2 separate regions of the Homo sapiens genome follow, and region 1 is linked to region 2. The links come from fine-mapping of genetic effects on plasma protein levels. Region 2 holds a variant in brackets. A gene starts in the other region. All regions are shown on their reverse strands.

Evidence for each region. PIP is the chance, under the fine-mapping model, that this variant and not a neighbour inherited with it causes the effect. Protein levels are from antibody-based Olink assays in UK Biobank. Linkage for the fine-mapping came from a reference panel and not from the study's own genotypes, which makes the PIPs less certain.
Region 1: it holds the start of SIGLEC6, and the variant in region 2 is fine-mapped to the plasma level of the SIGLEC6 protein (UK Biobank, PIP above 0.99).

Annotation. Positions count from the first base shown.
Region 1 is chr19:51,530,691-51,533,567 of GRCh38, reverse strand. It overlaps SIGLEC6 (sialic acid binding Ig like lectin 6), which reads left to right and starts at 1,898. Exons shown (of 8, transcript NM_001245.7): 1 at 1,898-1,986; 2 at 2,049-2,408; 3 at 2,609-2,877. The coding sequence starts at 1,920.
Region 2 is chr2:8,302,210-8,305,120 of GRCh38, reverse strand. The region is part of intron 2 of LINC00299 (long intergenic non-protein coding RNA 299); the gene reads left to right. Among named protein-coding and RNA genes, the nearest start is that of LINC00299, 25 kb to the left of the region's middle. RefSeq lists enhancers at 1,024-1,243, 2,730-2,789. The variant G/C (reference allele first, on the strand shown) is at 1,392.

The DNA.
Region 1 (2,877 bases), not on the chromosome of region 2:
GATACCGTCTTACCCAGTCAGAATGACTATTACTAAAAAAACAAAAAATAACAGATTTTGGCAAGGATGAGGAGAAAGATAACTCTTCTGTACTGTTGGTGGGAATTTAAACTAGTACAGCCACTTTTGAAAACACTATGGACATTTCTCAGGAACTAAAAATAGAATTACTATTCGATCACTCAAGCAATCCCACTACTGGGTATCTACCCGAAGGGAAAGAAAGAAATACATCAAAGAGATACCTGCATTCACATGATTTTTGCTGCACTATTCACAATATCAGAGATATGGAACCAACCTAAGTGTCAATTAACAGATGAATGGATAAAGAAAATATAGTATACATGCTATTTGGCCATAAAAAAGAATGAAATCGTGTCATTTGCAGCAACATGGATGGGACTAGAATTCATTATCTAAATTGAAATAAGTCAGACACAAAAAGACAAATGTTGCATGTTCTCACTTACATGTGGGAGCTAAAAAAATATTATCACATGGAGGTGGACAGTAGAAAGATAGACAACAGAGACTGGAAAGGGTCAGATGGGGGAGGACAGAAGATGAAGAGAAGTGAGTGAAGTGCTACAAACATACAGTTAAAAGGAATAAATTCAGCGTTAGAGAGCAGAATAGTGTGATTTTAGTTAACAAGAATGTATTGCACTCACGTGACGGACACTCTAAATATCCTGACATAATCATTACGCATTATATACATGCAAAAAAATTTTACATCTACTCCTTAAGTTTGTAGAAATAAAAAAATTTACAAATATATGGTGGCAAATTCTAATACCTCATAGGTATTAGAGATTTGCCAGATGCATACTGCACAGAGGAAAATAGAAAACCATGTGAGCTAGACCTAAAAATTTTAATTTTGTCAGGATATTCTGCTCACGTTGTCCAGAAATATGTCTTTTGTGCCACATTTAACTGTGAGAAGCAGATTTTTCACAGGAAAGAAATTGCTAATCTCTATGATGAGGACCTAAAAAAAAATCTCTCCAGTCCACACTGCACTGAGTGGCAACATTAATTCAAAAGAAGTTTCTTCTGCACTGCAGTTCATAAAATATGTGTCCTTTTTGATTTACATGAAGATGTTGCATGGTTCTTATTTTGGAGATGTCATTGAAATTTTGTAAATCAGCGTACTAGCTGTCAAGGAAAAACCTCCATACTCATGTTTTAAAAAATATCTGGCATTCTACTGTGTCACTTGGCAAACTCACCAGTGTCCACAGCTCTAAAGCTAGATAGTGAGGGTGTGTGCTGAGGATGGGAAGCTATGGATGGGGATCATCTCAAGGGTAGGGACCAGGTCCCTGGCATCTCTTCTCCAGCCCGACCTACATACAGATGCTCACTATGTCTTTGGTGAATGAATGAATGAATGAATGAATGAGTGAATGAATGAGTGGCTATCACCCACACTGCACCTGGGACCCTTCTTCCTTTCACTGTCCCAGACACTCCCACAGACCCTACAGAATCCTATATCCTGCAGGACTGACTTTCTCATGGCGTGGGATGAGGCTGTGACTCTCTGGGGCCAGGAGTGACCAGCTCCCAGGTGTAAACAGTGGTGCACAGAAAAGCACCTCAGGTGGGCAGGGCCTTGGACACAGGTTTCGCATTCCTCAGATGCCCCGGGAGGCCCTGGTCCGGGCTCTGTTGCTCACAGGAAGCCCCGAGGTGGGAGGCGGGACACAGTCTCTTCTCCTCTGCTCTTCTTTGGGCAGGTCTCTGGGTCTCAAAGTTTCCGTCTGCTCTGTGCAGAGGGAGTGGAGCTCCGAGGGCTTGTGGCTTCGCAGTTCCTCTTCTGTGAACAGCCGAGATCACGCGCTCCTCCCCAGCCACCCGTTCCTCCCCGCAGTCCTTCCCCTCCACTCCCTTCCCCTTCTCTGCTCATGCAGGGAGCCCAGGAAGCCTCCGCCTCAGAGATGCTACCGCTGCTGCTGCCCCTGCTGTGGGCAGGTGAGTGGGCCAGGGGAGAGGTGCCGTGGGGCTGGGCCGAGCTGACCCTCATGTCTCCATAGGGGCCCTGGCTCAGGAGCGGAGATTCCAGCTGGAGGGGCCAGAGTCACTGACGGTGCAGGAGGGTCTGTGCGTCCTCGTACCCTGCAGATTGCCCACTACCCTTCCAGCCTCGTACTATGGTTATGGCTACTGGTTCCTGGAAGGGGCTGATGTTCCAGTGGCCACAAACGACCCAGACGAAGAAGTGCAGGAGGAGACCCGGGGCCGATTCCACCTCCTCTGGGATCCCAGAAGGAAGAACTGCTCCCTGAGCATCAGAGATGCCCGGAGGAGGGACAATGCTGCATACTTCTTTCGGTTGAAGTCCAAATGGATGAAATACGGTTATACATCTTCCAAGCTCTCTGTGCGTGTGATGGGTAAGGAACCAGCTCCAGGACTAGCCACAGGGGAAGGTCATGGGGGCCGTAGGGCAGGGCTGGGACGGGAGCCCCGTCTTGGGAGGCGGGTACAATTAAGCATGTTGGGCTCAGAGAAGGAGCTGGACCAGAGACTGGGCTTCCCCCTGGGTGAAACCTCAGACCTCCATCCTGATCCTGCGTCCCCATCTCCTCACCAGCCCTGACCCACAGGCCCAACATCTCCATCCCAGGGACCCTGGAGTCTGGCCATCCCAGCAATCTGACCTGCTCTGTGCCCTGGGTCTGTGAGCAGGGGACGCCCCCCATCTTCTCCTGGATGTCAGCTGCCCCCACCTCCCTGGGCCCCAGGACCACCCAGTCCTCGGTGCTCACAATCACCCCACGGCCCCAGGACCACAGCACCAACCTCACCTGTCAGGTGACGTTCCCTGGAGCCGGTGTGACCATGGAGAGAACCATCCAGCTC
Region 2 (2,911 bases):
GCTCAATGGCAGGTCAGAGACGAGGGCCCCACACCTCGGTGTCTAGCCAGGGATCTGGCCCTAGCACCGTGTTGCTGAGTCATGTCGGGCTGCCTAGGGGATGTCGCAGAAGGAGCTCCTGGAGGACACATGCGTTCATCATCTGCTCAAAACTGCACAGCAGGTGAATGGTGACATTGACACATCAGAAAAATAACAGACTGCTTGGAGGGCGACGTGCTAAGCACTTAACGGGAATTATCTTAGTAAGTCTTTACGCCACTGTGATGAAGTAGGTAGCGTTCTCATAATTGCCATTTTACAGATGAGGACACTGAGGTTCTGGGAGGTTAAGAAACTTGCCCAAATGATGTAGTAGGTGGCCAAGCTGGAATTCCAAAGCAAGGATTTGTAAAGATTATGCTAATCAAAACTCCCACTGCCCTTGTCTGTTTTTGTTCTTCCCCTAAAGCATACCTACGTTTTCTTGTCTCAGGGAGCATGATGTGTGAAGGACTTTGGTTCTCATTGGCCAGAGACACCGAGTCCATCTCAGTCTGAAGTCCTGGGATCTGAGATTCCCTGAGTGTGTGGATTCCCTGCTAGGCAGGATGCAGTTTGACTGACGAGTTCCTTTTCTTTTATTTTCTTCTATTTAGCGACTTGCTTTTCCTGATATCCTCTTTTAGGAGGCTGTTAGGCCCCTGGGCCAGAGGCCTTTTATAGCACCCAAAAAATTGCCTTGTAGCAATCTGACAATTTTTTATAATAATTTGGGTCTTATTTCTAAATACAGTAACAATTTGGGGTCTTTTGTGTTATTTTTGTGTTTTGGCTCACCATCATTCAGTTTGGATTTTGTTGTGTGAAGTTCCCCAACTCCTGGCCTATTTCCATCCACCCTTTTATTCATGGGATAAATAGTAACTGTGTACCTACCCCCAGAACCTCCTATGACAAGGCACCCTAGGGCTCAGAGTAAGTTGTCTTCCCCCCCCCCTTTTTTTGACTATTGATAACACAAATAAAGCTGCAATAACTATCTTGGTTGAGACACAGCTTTCTAAATGCTTGTCGATAGCTTGCTGGTGTACGACCTTAGTTTTTACCGCGTCCCTGCCTTGACCACCCATCCTGCCCTCAAGAGGACACAGGGCTCCTCTCTGGGAAGATCCAGGGTTGGCAGAAAGGAAAGATTTCCTTCTTGACTTGTGATATGGCCTCTGTGCCAGGCCCTGTGCTAGGCCCTGGGAATGGAGTGGGGAGCGAGGCTCAGCCCTGTCCTCTGGACAGCCTGGACTGGCTCTCTGCATCTTACATTTGATTTTTAACAACAGTAGGAGAGGATGAACGCTGGAGAGGAACAGAAACCAGAGATCTGGGCTTGCAGCCCTCCCTGTTAACCTCGACAC[G/C]GCCCCCTGTGTCCTCTTGGTTTCCTGTCCCTCACCACAAGAAGCAGTGTTCAAATCGGTTTCTAGATGGCTCCGATGTGGCCACGTTTGGGTGGGTCTGGTGCATGTTGGCTCAGCTGGGAACATGCCAGTGTTTGGGGGTTGTTGTTGTGCAAGCCTGAGGGCCGGCTCACTGCACGAGGTCAGGGTGTCCTGGTGGGCCTTGTTCTGCTTTGTGATGACAGCAGCCCTCCAAGACGGTCAAGCTTGACCATATAAATTACCGTATAAATAACCATGATGGGTATGAATGACTCACTTAATGATTTCATTTCTGTATTTCACACCTTTTGGTGCTACCATGCTATGCATTGAGGGTCCAGGATGTGTAAGGCACTAGCACAGCACCTGAGATATTTTTGAGTGGTGGGGCAGAGAATGTGGTACAAAAAGATGAATGAGGCTGGATGCAGTGGCTCACGCCTGTAATCACAGTGCTTTGGGAGGCTGAGTGGGGAGTATTGCTTGAGGCCAGGAGTTTGAGACAGCACTGAGGGTCCAGGATGTGTAAGGCACTAGTACAGCACCTGAGATATTTCTGAGTGGTGGGACAGAGAATATGGTACAAAAAGATGAATGAGACTGGATGCAGTGGCTCACGCCTGTAATCACAGTGCTTTGGGAGGCTGAGGGGGGAGGATCGCTTGAGGCCAGGAGTTTGAGACCAGCCTGGTCAACACAGCAAGATTCTGTTTCTTACATTAAAAACAGCAACAACAACAACAACAACAACAACAACAAACAACCACCCATGAACAAGATCTAAGGAGTGCAGGGAAGGCAGTGGGTGCCTCTCAGCACACAGTGAGGCTGGTGCGCTGAGAGGTTTCCCCTCATTGGGATTTCTTTGTTCTCTTTGCTATTCCTCCCATTCAAGCAACCCTTTCTCTGCTCTTCCCTAGGTAAGGGGTGTGAGAGCAGAAAGACAAGCAGTCCTCTTTCGGCTGCAGTGACCATTGGGGTGCTCTGCCCAGGTCTCCCCGCTAGCTGCAGTGACAGTTGATGATGGCCATGGCAGAGCCCGCACTGGATGCCCCCTCCTGCTGCAGGGAATGGCCTCTTTTCAGGTCATATCCCCCAGGTTCTGAAACTGACCGAGGAAGGAACGCAAAGGCTCGGCCCTCTTGCCTCAACTTGGGACAACTCTGATGGGCCGTCCCAGCTCGAGAGCGCCACTTAGGATTGGCTGGGGGTGGCTCCAAGTGTAGCCTCGTTGCAGCCAGCTTCAGCTTCTGCAGCATCCTGCCTTTCTCACTTCTTTACAGGAGAATCTCCCGAGAACACCCTCTGATCAGCACTCTGCATGCAATTTCCATCTCAGACTCTGTTTCTAGGAAGACTTTCAGGCAGCTGACACTGGACGTGGTTGTGAGTTGCAGGCCCTAATGAAAAATTGGAGAGGAAGCAGGTGGCCGGCTGATGAAATGATAACCAGAAGGCCTGTGGGCTTGGGTGGCTGAGGCTGAGGCTACTGAGTGTTG